Homo sapiens: one gene and its partner. The protein of the gene in region 1 interacts with the protein of each later gene in a biochemical or structural test. Each region holds a gene or a part of one and is shown in the gene's direction. Other genes may lie near its edges.

Region 1 (7,023 bases):
CTGGCCAACATAGTGAAACCCTGTCTCTACTAAAAATACAAAAATTAGCCAGTCGTGGTATCGCACACCTGTAATCCCAGCTATTTGGGAGGCTGAGGCAGGAGAATTGCTTGAACCAGGGAGCCTGGAGATTGCAGTGAGCCGAGATCGTGCCACTGCACTCCAACCTGGCGACAGAGCGAGATTGTTTCAAAATAACAACAATGAAAAACCCAACACCTTTTCACTCCCTAAAGCGTTGTGGATTATCAAAGGTTTGTGTTTTTTTTTTTGGTTGGTTGGTTGGTTGGTTGTTTTAAACAGAGTCTCACTCTTTCGCCCAGGCTAGAGTGCAGTGGCACCACCTCAGCTCACTGCACCCTCCACCTCCCAGGTTCAAGTAATTCTTGTGCCTCAGCCTCCCAAGTTGCTGGGACTACAGGTGCGTGCCACCACACCCGGCTAATTTTTTGTATTTTTTTAGTAGAGAGGGGGATTTCACCTTGTTAGCCAAGATGGTCTCAATTTGCTGATCTCGTGATCCGCCCGCCTGAGCCTCCCAAAGTGCTGGGTTACAGGCATGAGCCACCATGCCCTGCCATCAAGGTTTTTACACAGTAACCCAACAGACTTCTTTTATGGAATGTAGTTGTTTTCTTTAATCATCTTTCTAGACCAGAGGTTGTTAGTGACAAGCAGAACCTGTGTGCAGTGGCAGACACTCTTGAAAATATATGAGAGACTGGGGCTTAAGTTCAGGTCTCAGTAAGCAACTATAATCCTATCCCCCGCCTTTTCCCCTCACTAAAGAATTATGTATTGGCCGGGCACGGTGGCTGACACCTGTAATCCCAACACTTTGGGAGGCTGAGGTGGGTGGATCACGAGGTCAGGAGATTGAGACCATCCTGGCCAACACAGTGAAACCCCGTCTCTACTAAAAATACAAAAAAGAAATAGTTGGGCGTGGTGGCACGTGCCTGTAGTCCCAACTACCCTGGAGGCTGAGGCAGGAGAATTGCTTGAACCTGGGAGGCAGAGGTTGCAGTGAGCTGAGATCGTGCCACTGCACTCCAGCCTGGGTGAAAGAGCGAGACTGTGTCTCAAAAAAAATAATAAATAAAATAAAAAAGAATATGTATTAGACTACAGCCCCTGACAGTGCTGATGATGTAGGAATAAACTTGAATTTGCTCAAATATATTAAGACTAAATCACTGCAACATGAGAACTATATGTTTTAGTATAAACATGGCTGGTGGTAGTGTAATTGTTTAATAATTTGTCACAATGTTTAGATTAAGAGCTGCTTGAGAGCTGTTTTTGTACCATTTACCTTTTCAACATTTCTTTTCAAAGTATGCCTAAGAATGACAAATTTACTCTGTAACTGAAGCCTTAATATTTTATATCGAACAGTTTTAAAGGACACCTTGGAAAAAAAGGGGGTATTAGGGCATTTAAAAGCAAGGATCCGAGCTGAAGTTTTCAATGCCCTAGATGATGACCGTGAACCCCGACCATCATTGTCTCATGAAAACCTTCTAATTAATGAATTAATTCGAGAGTATTTAGAATTCAACAAATATAAGTATACAGCATCTGTCCTCATAGCAGGTAAGTGGTTATTATTTATCACATAAAATCTGTTTCTCCCCTTTCCCCAATTCTCAGAAACTGTTTATCCTAGAAATCTAATTCCCTTACCAGATAGTGCCATCTGGGTGACTGGGACACAAAAATCACATGGGTTCTTTCTGTAGCTTAAACAGATTCTTACAAGAGAAAATACATAACTAAATAATCACTTAAACTAGGCATATACTTGGAAAAATCATCTATAATTCCTGTAACCGAGAATAAACAATTGTTGACGTTTTGTCCTGTTTGCCACCAGTTTTTTCCTGTGTATTAAGCTTTAAAAATATACGCTGATTAAGTATATTATTTGTTAAAAAATAGGCTGGGTAGGTGGCTCACACCTGTAATCTCAGTGCTTTGGGAGGCCGAGGCAAGATTACTTGAGCCCAGGAGTTCGCGACCAGCCTGGGCAACACAGGGAGACCCCATCTCTGGAAAAGAGTTTTTAAAATTAGCCATGCATGGTGGCACGTGTCTGTTGTCCTAGCTGAGGCTGAGCAGGGGTCGGGGAGGGGGTGATCATGTGAGCCCATGTGCTCTGGGCTTTAGTGAGCCATGATCGCATCACTGCACTCCAGTCTGGGCAACAGAGAGAGACCCTGTCTCTTTTTTCTTTTTCCAGAGACAGAATCTCACTCTGTTGCAAAGGCTGGACTGCAGTGGTGCGATCATGGCTTATTGCAACTTTCACCTCCTGGGCTCAAGCAGTCTTCCTGCGTCAGTCTCCTGAGTAGCTGGGACCACAGGTGCATGCCTCCATGCCCAGCTAAATTTTTTTATTATTTATAGAGATGAGCTCTCACTATGTTGCCCAGCCTGGTATTGAACTCCTGGGCTCAGGTGATCCACCTATCTCACACTCCCCAAATGCTGGGATTACAGGCATGAGCCACTGCACCCAACCCCTGTCTTTTTTTTCTTTCTTTTTTTTTGAGACGGAGTCTCACTCTATTGTGATCTCAGCTCACTGCATCCTCCGCCTCCTGGGTTCAAGCAGTTCTCCTGCCTCAGCCTCCCGAGTACCTGGAACTACAGGTGTGTGCTGCCAGGCCCGGCGAATTTTTGTATTTTTTAGTAGAGACGGGGTTTCACTATATTGGACAGGCTGGTCCAACTCCTGTCTCTTAAAAGAAAAAAAACTGTCCCTGTCTATATATAGATATGTAGATATATGTCTATTTGTGTGTGTGTGTGTGTGTATCTAGATAGATAGATAGATAGATAGATAGATAGATAGATAGATAGATAGATATAATGGAGATAAAACTTTGAAATATTACTACTATGTAGTGCTTAGGTACATTTACAAATGTATGTATCTAAAAGCATGGTATTTATAAAGGACTAGGCTGGTATATTAGGTTGTTTTTGGATTGCTATAAATAAACACCTGAGACTGGGTAATTTATGAAGAGAAGAGGTTTTTTTGTATGTTTGTTTGTTTGTTTGTTTGTTTTGAGACAGAGTCTTGCTCTGTCACCCAGGCTGGAGTGTGGATTGATCTCGGCTCACTGCAACGTCTACCTCCTGGGTTCAAGTGATTCTCCTGCCTCAGCCTCCCAAGTAGCTGGGACTACAGGCCATGCCCAGCTAATTTTTTGTATTTTTAGTAGAGACAGGGTTTCACCGTTAGCCAGGATGGTCTCAGTCTCCTGACCTCGTGATCCGCCCTCCTCGGCCTCCCAAAATGTTGGGATTACAGGCGTGAGCCACCGCACCCGGTTGAAGAAAAGAGGTTTACTTGGCTCACGGTTCTGCAGACTGTACAAGCATGGCACTGGCATCTGCTTAGCTTCTGGGAGGCCTCAGGGAGCTTTTGCTCACTGCAGCAAGCACGTTACATGGTGAAGGCAGGGGCCAAGGGTGGGGAAGGTTAGTGCCACACACTTATAAATGACCTGTTCTCATGAGAACCCACTCACTGTGGTAAGGACAGCACCAGGCCATGAGGGATCCACCCCCATGACCCAAACAACTCCCGCCAGGTCCCACTTCCAACACTGGGGAGTGCGTTGCAACATGAGATTTGGGCGGAGACAAATATCCAGACTCTAGCAGCGGGAAACTCCAAACTCATCCTAGTGATAGGAGGCAGAGAATGATATTGGGGGTTGGGGGTGGGGAGATAAAGATAAATTCCCTTTATCTGTTGAATTTTATTTCTTGAGAAATAAATTTGCTCTTCAAGTGTAACAGTTATTGAGTGGTGAGAATATTTTTAATATCTTCTGCTGACTTTTAAATGTCTTCTTTCAAAAAAGTGAGGAGAGACTGGATGGATATAAATAAGTCAGAATCCTGGTTACCCCTGGACTTGGTGGGGTGGGGGATGCAGCTGGGGGTTGGTCTGAGGCACCCTGAATGTGTGTCATCGGATTCCCTCGTTTCAGGTTCCATCTCTGCTTTGACTACTTCATGCCTCAGCAAAGAAGCGAGGCCAGGAAGTAGATTTTGCAAGAGAGAATGAATTCTTTGTGAAGTTAGAATTTTTCGTTACAGATCCTTTATTTAATATTAAACATACGTCTGAACTACATAAAGACTCATGATTTTTATGGTTTAAGGATCTTTGATATCAGCATCTCTGCTTTCCTTTGTTTGTTATAGATGGCTGTATGATACCAGTTACACCCAGAAAAGAAGAAATTATGAAAATAGTGGGGACTTGGGATTCACTAGAATGAAATATAGTGACAGTAGTCAAGTTTTCATATTAAATGGTTTGGCTTTTTTTAAAAAACTGGGATATAATTTACATACAATAAAATTTACCTTTTAAACTGTACAGTTCTGTACTTTAGTCAAATGCCTGCAGTTGTGTAATTACTACCAGATCACAATCAAGATATCACCAGCCTTTTTGGCACCAGGGACTGGTTTCATGGAAGACAATTTTTCCATGGACCTGGGAGGATGGTTCGGGATGATTCAAGCATACTCCATTTATTGTGCATTTTATTTCTATGATTGTGTTGTAATATATAATGAAATAATTATAACTCACCATAATGTAGAATCAGTGGGAGCCCTAAGCCTGTTTTCCTGCAACTAGATGGTCCCATCTGGGGGTGATGGGAGGCAGTGAGAGATCATCAGGCCTTAGATTCTCATAAGGAGTGCACAGCCCAGATCCCTCGCATGTGCAGTTCACAATAGGGTTCACGCTTCTATGAGAATCTAATTCTGCCAACAGGAGGCTGAGCTCAGGCAGTGATGCTAGTGATGGGCAGCAGCTGTAAACACAGATCAAGCTTCCCTCACTTGCTTGCCCACTCCTCACCTCCTGCTGTGTGGCCCAGTTTCTAATCTGTGGCTCGGGGGTTGGGGACCCTTGCTGTAGATGGAACCGTACATGATGTAGCCTTTTGAGTCTGCCTTTTTTCACTTAGTGTAATACATTCAAGATTCAGCCATGTTTGTTTTTCCTTTGAACACTGTTCTATTGTGTGGCTGTGCTAGTTTGCTCATCTATGACCAGTTGATGGGCATTGAGTTGTTTCTAGTTTTAGCAGTTAGGAATCAAGCTGCCATAAACATTTACATACAGGTTTTTGTGAGAACATAAGTTTTCATTAATCTTGGGTAGAAAGCTAAGAGTGAGATTGCTGGGTTGTGTGGTTAAGTGCACGCTCACCTTTATAAGAAAACTGCTCAACTGTTTTCCAAAGTGCCTGTACCATTGTGCTTTCCCACCAGCAAAGTGTGAAAGTTCCAGCTGCCCCACACTTCAGGTTAACTTTAATTTTTATTTATAAGTATTGTCACCAAGTGGATATTCTTTTCAAAAATAAGTTATTGATAAACAGACTTCCAAAATTTAGTATTATAATTTGGATATAGAAATGGTATTTTTCCAACCAAACACTGGGGAATTTAAAAAGTGAATTTATGTTAAACTGTATTAAGACATGCATTTAACAAAAGAGATATTTTGAAAGTCATAAAATCACAGGCAATTTGATCTGTCTTGGTGTGTGTTGTCATCATTCTTCCAAAATCTAAAAAGTGTATGTCTGGTAAATGTGATTCTTTTCAAAATCTTATTTGCTTTTTAGTTTAATAGACTGAGTGTTCTCATGAATTTATTTCTCCCAGAATCTGGTCAACCTGTAGTTCCGTTGGACAGACAGTTTCTCATCCATGAACTAAATGCATTTGAAGAATCAAAGGATAATACAATGTAAGACATTTTTTTAAAGAAGTTTCCACATATTGTATTGAGTCATAATTGCACCATGGTGGTTTTACTTCATTTTAATTCAAGTATTTATTCAGATCTAGTGTGTGTCAAGCATTGTCCTAAATCCAGGGTGTGCAGCAGTGAATAAGTCAGATGAGATCTGTGTTTGCTGAAGCTACAATTACATGGCTTCAGAGTGACTCAGCATCTTCTTTCTGGAGTTAGCTCCTTTTGACTTCTTGATCCTTTGTCCTTCTAAGGCTTTGTTTGTTTTTTAATTTATAATTTCAACTTTTATTTGTATTTTCAAATTATTTTTGTAGAGGCAAGGCCTCGCTTTTTTGCCCAGGCTGGTCTCGAACTCCTGACCTCAAGTGATCTTCCTGCCTTGGCCTCCCAAAGTGCTAGGGTTGCAGGTGTGAGCCCTCCATGCCTGGCCTCTGAGACTTTGCCTTGTCAGTTGTTTTCTTCATATTTAACTCTTCCTTCACTCCAACTTAGGAATGTACTCAGATCTCTCCTCTCCTAAAACAAAAACAAAAACAAAAACAAAAACTATGAACTTCCAACCCCAAGCTTCTGCTCGAATACCTTTTTCTACCAAGATTACTGAATCAGCCCACTGCTTTCGTTACTATTACTCTGTCCTTTGCCCTCTGTGTACCTCCTCTCACCAACTATGCTCTTGAAAAGGAGGATGACCACTTTCTAGTTTTCTTAGTTTTTTTCTATTTCAGTGTTTCTTAAACTTTTTCTGGAGAGTCCCTGTATAGCCAAAAAAAAAAAAAAAAGTACATAGGAGACCTGAGAACATAGCTTAAAGCAGCCTTTTTTTAAATCTAGAACTTTCTTTGAAGCCTTACGTTTTCTCATCCTAAAAGTTCTTAAGGCCAAGTGAGGTATCTCGTGCCTGTAATGCCAGCACTTTGGAAGGCTGAAGTGGAAGGATCACTTGAGCTCAGGAGTTCAAGACTAGCCTGGACAACATGGGGAAACCCCATCTCTAGCCAGACGTGGTGGCTCATGCCTGTAGTCCCAGCACTTCAGAGGCTGAGGCAAGTGGATCACCTGAGGTCAGGAGTTTGAGACCAGCCTGGTCAACATGGCGAAACCCCATCTCTACTAAAAATAACAAAAAGATTAGCAAGGCATGGTGGCGTGTGCCTGTAGTCCCAGCTGCTAGGGAGGCTCAGGCATGAGAATCGCTTTAACCTGGGCAGCGG
Region 2 (7,105 bases), on another chromosome or scaffold:
TCTAATATTCTTTGCCTCTAGTCTTTCTTCTTTCTAGAACATGTTTTCTACAGTTCCAAAAGTGAAGGGGATCACGTCACTGTCCTGCTTAAAAATCTTCAATGTTCCTTGATACATAACCCTAAGGTTACAATCCAAACTTCCAAGTATATCTCCTAATGAGCTGACCCTTGTCTCTCCCATCTCACATCCCACAGCTTCTGCCTCACATTTACCATCACCCCATACCCTAAGTCTGGTTCTACTGAACCACCTGCAAGTACTGAGAACACGAACAATGTTTCATCCCGAACCTTAATTCTGCACAAGCCACTATGTAAAACTTCCTCTGAAGACACTGCTGTAAGTCCTAAGCATTAAACATGAATTAACTCTTAATCCTCACAACAACTACTATTCTCTCCACTTTACAGATGAGGAAACTGAGACACAGAGCCAACAAATAACTTGCTAGATTTCATATAGCTAATACGTTGTGACACTGGGATTTGAACCCCAGTCTTGTGGCAGAGCCTGTGGCTGTAAATACTGTGCTATCTTGCCTGAGTTCACCTTTTTTCACTACCATGTTCATCCACCTGGTGAATTCTTATTTATATTTCAATACCCACCTCAAGCAGCACTTTTCCAGGATACTTTCCCTCCTCTCCCAGAGTTAACCTCTCATTTCTTTCCTGGCATTTGTCATTGTGTCTTGGTCACACCCCTGTTATTGCATTTGTCACTGTACTGTGTCCATTTCAGAATCAACCCAATGCTACACAGAGATCAGACTGCACATAAGAATTACCTTGAGCCATGGAAGTTCCTACATTTATTTCCTGATAAGCCCTTTTACCCATCTGTATATTATTTTTGTCTCTTGCTGTCAGTTTACCAGCTCTCACTCATCCTCAGCTCCTTGCTGGCTCCAGCCCTTCAGTTTGATTCATTGTTTGCCTGCTTTGACAAATCTACCTTGCCTGCTACCTTTCCTGAACTCTCCCTCCTTTGACTGATAACCTAGAAATGAACCCCTTTCAGCGTGACCCTGGGGAGCAGCTGTCAAGCAGGCAGCCCTAACTGGGTGGGGCTGATCCCCCAACCTGGCTCTGAACAAGTCATACTTATTTGGTTTAGCTTTTTCCTTTGGTTTCATTCAAGCTACTTCATGGGGCTGAAGAGTTATTGAAAGAATAAATGTCATAGAGAAAGTAAGAAAAACTAACAACTAGGTTTAGGAAGAACAAAAACGCTAATGAAGTCAGACTGCAGGCTCTTCACTCCCAGTGGTTCACCATTTTCACAATTCAGCGAACACCCAAGTAGCCTTTTCTTTAATTTACAGTTAGCAATTGGCTTACATTCCCCTCTGTCTATTTCTTCCAAATTTCATAGCTTCCACTTACTCATGATGTCTTCTCCATAAGTTTTATTTGCCATGACTTCATGGTTCTGTCTATGCAAATGTTCAGCTTCAGCTCTTCTAAATGCCTAATTTTCTATGTGCTTCTAATTTCAGTTTCCCAAAAACAAGAAGCTTTTTGGCCCTAGTTCATCTTTCCATGTTATGTCATGAAACATCCACTACCAGCCATCCTATAGATTGGCAGTGCTGGTGTCCAGACTAACTTCAACCCAGTCCACTCTAACAGGGTCACAGTGTGTCAAATCATGCAAAACTTGGCCACCTGGGCTGCCCCTTGAGCACAGGTTCTAAGTGAGGCATTTTCTCTTAAAAAGAACTATAGTGGCCGGGCGCAGTGGCTCTCACCTGTAATCCCAGCACTTTGGGAGGCTGAGGAGGGCAGATCACGAGGTCAGGAGTTCCAGACCAGCATAACCAACATGGTGAAACCCCGTCTCTACTAAAAATACACAAAAAATTAGCAGGGTGTGGTGGCGCACACCTGTAATTCCAGCTACTCAGGAGGCTGAGGCAGGAGAATCGCTTTAACCCGGGAGGCGGAGGTTGCAGTGAGCTGAGATCACCCCGTTGCACTCCAGCCGCCTAGGCAACAAGAGTGAAACAACGTCTCAAAAAAGAAAAAAAAGAAAAGAACTGTGGTGTGTAAGGCCTCATGATTGAGTTATGGAGTAATTTAGACAAATGATTCCTTAATATGTTGGGATCATAAATTTTTCTGAGAATCAGATGAAAGATGTGGACTCTTCGCCAGAAAAATTTCTCTTATGCAAAAAATTTACATGTAACTTTAAGGTATTAAGGAACCCCAGCAGCCGTTCATGTAACACCCCCCACCACCAAAGGTTTGAAGTCTATTACCTGGCACTTGATAAGAACTGTGAGTCAAAAAGGCATTTAGACTCAGTGGCTCCAATGCTTTCAAGCAGGGAAAATGGTAGAGTGATAGTACCCTTAGCAGAGAAGACAGAAACAGGTTTGGGGAAAACTAGTTATTCCTGAATTATTGAGTCTGAAGTGCAGGTGGGACTCTCAAGTGGATTCATAAACAAGTAACTGAAAATGTGGGTCTGGAGTAGCTGAGAACTGAGATGGAGATTTGTCTCACGTGCTCAGGGCACCTGTGAGAGCAGGTGCAGGGAAGCAGTTCACACAATGCCTATAGCCCATTATCTTTCATTTGCGTCTACTCTGCAGTTTTTGGAGACCTTTCTAAGCCCTCACTTTACTTGACAGTCCTAACAATCTTATGAAACAGGAAAGGCCTATCTCAAGACCTATTACAAATAAGGAAGTGGAAGCTCAAAGGAGTGACAAGTCTGGTCAAAAGTATTGCAATGAAGTAACAGACACAAGACTGGAACCCAAGTCTTCTGATTCTTAATACAACTCCTAATTTCATTGCAAACTGCACACAGATAAATGCCTTACTAGCACGGATCAATTTTTAAGTGCAGTAGTTTGGTTTTCGGATTTTGTCTTTGTGGCTGTCCTCAGTTTACAGAAAAGTTTGAGAGAGAGGGGTGGCAATTGTCCCTTGACAATAATCCCCAGTAATCCCGTGGCAATTGATTTGGCAATACTCACCACTGTTTACTGTTAAATATCTTCCCTGTGGAGCAATAGAGAGCCCCAACTCCTAGGAACTTGTCTACAATTCTGACCCGCACTCTGTCCTAACTAACACTCTTGGTTTTGTTTTTTGTTTGTTTGTTTTTGAGATGGAGTCTTGCTCTGTCGCCCAGGCTAGAGTGCAGTGGCGCGATCTCGGCTCACTGCAAGCTCTGCCTCCGGGGTTCACGCCATTCTCCTGCCTCAGCCTCCCGAGTAGCTGGAACTACAGGCGCCCGCCACCACGTCCGGCTAATTTTTTGTATTTTTAGTAGAGACGGGGTTTTGCCGCGTTAGCCAGGATGGTCCCGATCTCCTGACCTCGTGATCCACCCGCCTCGGCCTCCCAAAGTGCTGGGATTACAGGAGTGAGCCGCTGCGCCCGGCCTGTTTTTGTTTGTTTTTTGAGACATTGTTCCGCTCTTGTTGCCCAGGCGGCTGGAGTGCAACGGCGCGATCTCAGCTCGCTGCAAACTCCACCTCCCGGGTTCAATCGATATTTCTGCCTCAGCCTCCCAAGTAGTTGGTATTACAGGCGTGTGCCACCACGCCAGGCTAATTTTGTATTTTTAGTAGAGACAGGGGTTTCACCATGTTAGTCAGGCTGATCTCAAACTCCTGACCTCATGTGATCTACCCGCCTCGGCCTCCCAAAGTGCTGGGATTACAGGCCTGAGCCACCGCGCCCGGCCCACTGCTGTTTCCAAAAGAGACCTTTTTTGCCTATCTAACCTAAATGCCCAGAATGAGCTCATACATGGGAAAGACCCACGGACATGGACAGACTTCCCGAAGACTACTGTGCAAAACTTATAATTCTAAAAAGTCAAAAATCTTCAGGAATCACAGGACGGGGTGGAGGGGGCCGGGGGGAAAGAGGAGGGAAAAGAGGGAAAGGAGGGAGAGTGAGACTGCTTAAATCGCTGGAGAGGACGGTGGGTTTATTTGAGTCTTAAAGCTCAGTTCTGTGGTTAGCGCCGGCCGCGGTCCCAGGCCCAGCCCGGGAGGCGGGGAGGGGCGGGGCAGGCGCGGAAGCTGTCTGAGTAAGGCTTGGGCAAGGCTGGGCCGGGAAGGGCGTGGGTTGAGGAGAGGCTCCAGACCCGCACGCCGCGCGCACAGAGCTCTCAGCGCCGCTCCCAGCCACAGCCTCCCGCGCCTCGCTCAGCTCCAACATGGTAAGCCTCACTTTTCTTCTTCTTCTTCTTACATGAAAAGAAAAAGAAAAGAAAAAAAACCCACATACTTCCCAGCAGACTTTATCTTTGACTTATGTGTGGACGTGGCAGGAAACAGCAGGAAAAATCAGCCTCGTGGGAGGGAACTGGGGAAGAAGGGATGGAAGGATGAAGCCCTAAAATCATCCTTGGGGTGGCCGCCTAGGGTAGCAGCGGAGGTTCTTTAGCCTTCCCAGTCACGACAAGGCCCAGGGCTGGGGAAGAGGAAGTGCTGGCCGCTCACCGCGCGGGGGGGGGACCCGTCGTGGGTCACTGCCTCCAGCCCCTCGCCCGCGGTCTCCCGGGAGCCCAGAGACGCCTAGGAGCAAGTTTAAGGCAGGGGGCTGGAAAGCTGCGAGGGGTCACTAGTTATTTCTGTACACCAGAAAAGGGACATTTTAGAACTTGGTCGTCTAGCCCCAGGGAAAATCAAAGTTTCAGTAAGCACCCGGCAGACGGCCAAGACCCAACGGGACTGAAACTTTAGCCCGTCGCCGCCCGCAGCGCCGCGGCCAAGAATGTGGGAGGAACCCGGTCCCAGCTGAGCCCTCTCCTCCTTCCTCTTCCTTTTACCCCACCATCTATTTAGGCACTCACTCCGTAACTTATTTTTCTCTTCTTATCTCCTTTCATCTCCCAGTTGAACTCATATTTTCCATAATTCCACCTCCAAAATCTCTTTCTTTACCTCTCCTTAGTGGAGAGTCAGCAAACTGGCCCGCGGGCCAAGTCGGGTTTTCTGTTCTGCCCACAAGCTAAGAATAAAGTTTACATTTGTAAATGATTGAAAGAAATCAAAAGAAGAAAAATACTTTCTGACATGTGAAAATTATGTGGAAATCAAACTTCAGCGTCCATAAATGAAGTATTGGAACAGAGCCACGCCCATTCCCTTCCATACTGTCTGGGGTTGCAGTCCTGCTACAGCAGGGACAGAAAGCTCCGGAGGGTGTTGGTTAAGAATGAGAAGACAATAGTTGAGGTTTTTAAAATTGCTACGTCTTTTTCATCGTATTTTTTTCTTTCCTCAAATGTTGAGCGCTTAGCATGCATTTTTAAAAATTATTTCACAGTATCCGTTTATCATAATGTTTGCTCCTTGCTATCGCCATCCCCACCAAGTAAGACTCCAAGAGTGCCATGAGGTGTGGAGAGCGCCGGTTCTCCTCTCCTTCAGCCACTGCGCCACCCTGGGCAGAGCTTTCCGGTTTCTGGGCGTCCTCAGGACCCATCTCCAAAGTGCCCTGGAGCTCTACAAATTATGCCGTTCCATTTTAGTAATTTGATAATTGTGTCTCTTTCTTTCACTTTGGAGAATTACCTCTGGGAGGAAATGCAAAGAGGTTTTAATTTTCTCCTTGTGGCTGATAGCAACAGCAACAGTTTTCAAAAGAAAATAATCTCTAAATTACACCAAGACTGATGTTAAGGAGAGAAAAATGTGAAGCAGAAAGGCACTGTGAAACTGGAAAAGCAAAACTGTCTGCATTCTGGAAGGAAAAGGGGCAGGGGGAGAATCTGTAGTTCCAGAGAAAGGTGACAAAGCCCATGCTCCTCAGCCTGGTGTGGCCTCCCAGCCAGTCTCCTTCCTGTCATCTGATACCTTAGTAAGACAGGGAGATTTTAGGCCTGATATGAAGGGCATGTTGTAACAGAACAAACACATCTGTTTCTAGGCTGTGGTATTTTGTTTCTCCCCTAAAGGCCCCTGAACCTACCAACACTTTTCTTAATGAAAAGTTCAATTTAGAGCAAAACAAAAACAATCATCCTCCAACAATGTGATTCTTGGGAAAAAGTCCACCTCTCTTAGGGTTCAGGGGTTCTAACGCTGTAAGATGCAATGGGAGGCAAGACTCAGCTAGGATCTCTGCAGCATAAAGGCTGTACAGGAAGGAGGAATCAATCTGCAGCTGTGTAGCTAAGGGCTCAGATCAGTTCTTAGCACGTGTTAATTACGGAGTGAGAAAGCCTCTAGCTCTGGCCTCCAGGAAGTCCATCCTAAGAACAAACGAAAGGCTAAATGCTAAGTTGCAAATGTCACCATCCAAACATAAATCATTGTTAACGCTAGTAGGTAAAGTCTCAGAGGAAGGGTGTGGCCAGGCCGGTTTCCCAGAAAGTCTGTAATTGCGGCTTCTACCCACCAGAGGGAGGCCAACAGCTCCTCACTTTTGGGACCCTAAGTCCCCTTGGGGAACCGGATGACTGGGCCCTATAGAATTTCCTTGAAAAATTCTGCTGTGAGGAAAGAGCCCAGTACAGGATTTAAATCTCTTACATTGTAGATGCTGTGTAAGCAGCAACCTGAGAGCTTCCTGGTTTGGAGTGACCTCCAGAGAAGCTCCACCTTCTCTGTCACTATTTCCCACCAGGAAGTGGAAGCCTGCAAGGCTAAGGACTGCAGAAAGGGACTGGGAGGCCCAGATTCCAGGGCTGGCTCTGCCATATCCATTCCCTTCTCCTGTCCGTTTCCTCACATCTAAGATTAATGGTTCCTAACTCTTAAATATGAAAGCCATTTTCAAACATCTAAAAAGTTCTATCTCCCACTGCATACACAATGATAGCTATGCTTTTAGTTTTCTCTAAGGAAATGTGTGAGTCCCAGGAATTCGGTATTGCTTTAAAAAGAACTGACATTTCATTAATCACAAAAGCCTCCATACACTCTTGGAAAATAAGAAATTATTAACCTATAGACAATGTTTGGTGTGCATATGGATTTGTGGATATAGAGTTACACATGTATTTATCCACACATTTTAAAAATATGAGTAAACCTTGTCACCGTCACTCTCATCTAGGCAGTCTACTGCTTTTAAACGTGCCAGCAATGCTCCACATTTACCTTCCATATATTTCACCTGGAATA

What was found. The genes of interacting proteins can lie anywhere in the genome.
Region 2: the proteins of CEP20 (region 1) and S100A11 form a complex in vitro, tested with the Homo sapiens proteins (one study listed by BioGRID).

What each region holds. Positions count from the first base shown.
Region 1 is NC_000016.10:15,878,581-15,885,603, reverse strand, and holds part of CEP20 (centrosomal protein 20), read left to right. Parts: intron 1-1,398; coding exon 1,399-1,596; intron 1,597-2,555; exon of another isoform or gene 2,556-2,583; coding exon of another isoform or gene 2,584-2,655; intron 2,656-5,715; coding exon 5,716-5,800; intron 5,801-7,023. UniProt on the Homo sapiens protein: Involved in the biogenesis of cilia. Required for the recruitment of PLK1 to centrosomes and S phase progression.
Region 2 is NC_000001.11:152,033,999-152,041,103, reverse strand, and holds the start of S100A11 (protein S100-A11), read left to right. Parts: upstream 1-4,099; 5' UTR 4,100-4,188; coding exon 4,189-4,191; intron 4,192-7,105. UniProt on the Homo sapiens protein: Facilitates the differentiation and the cornification of keratinocytes.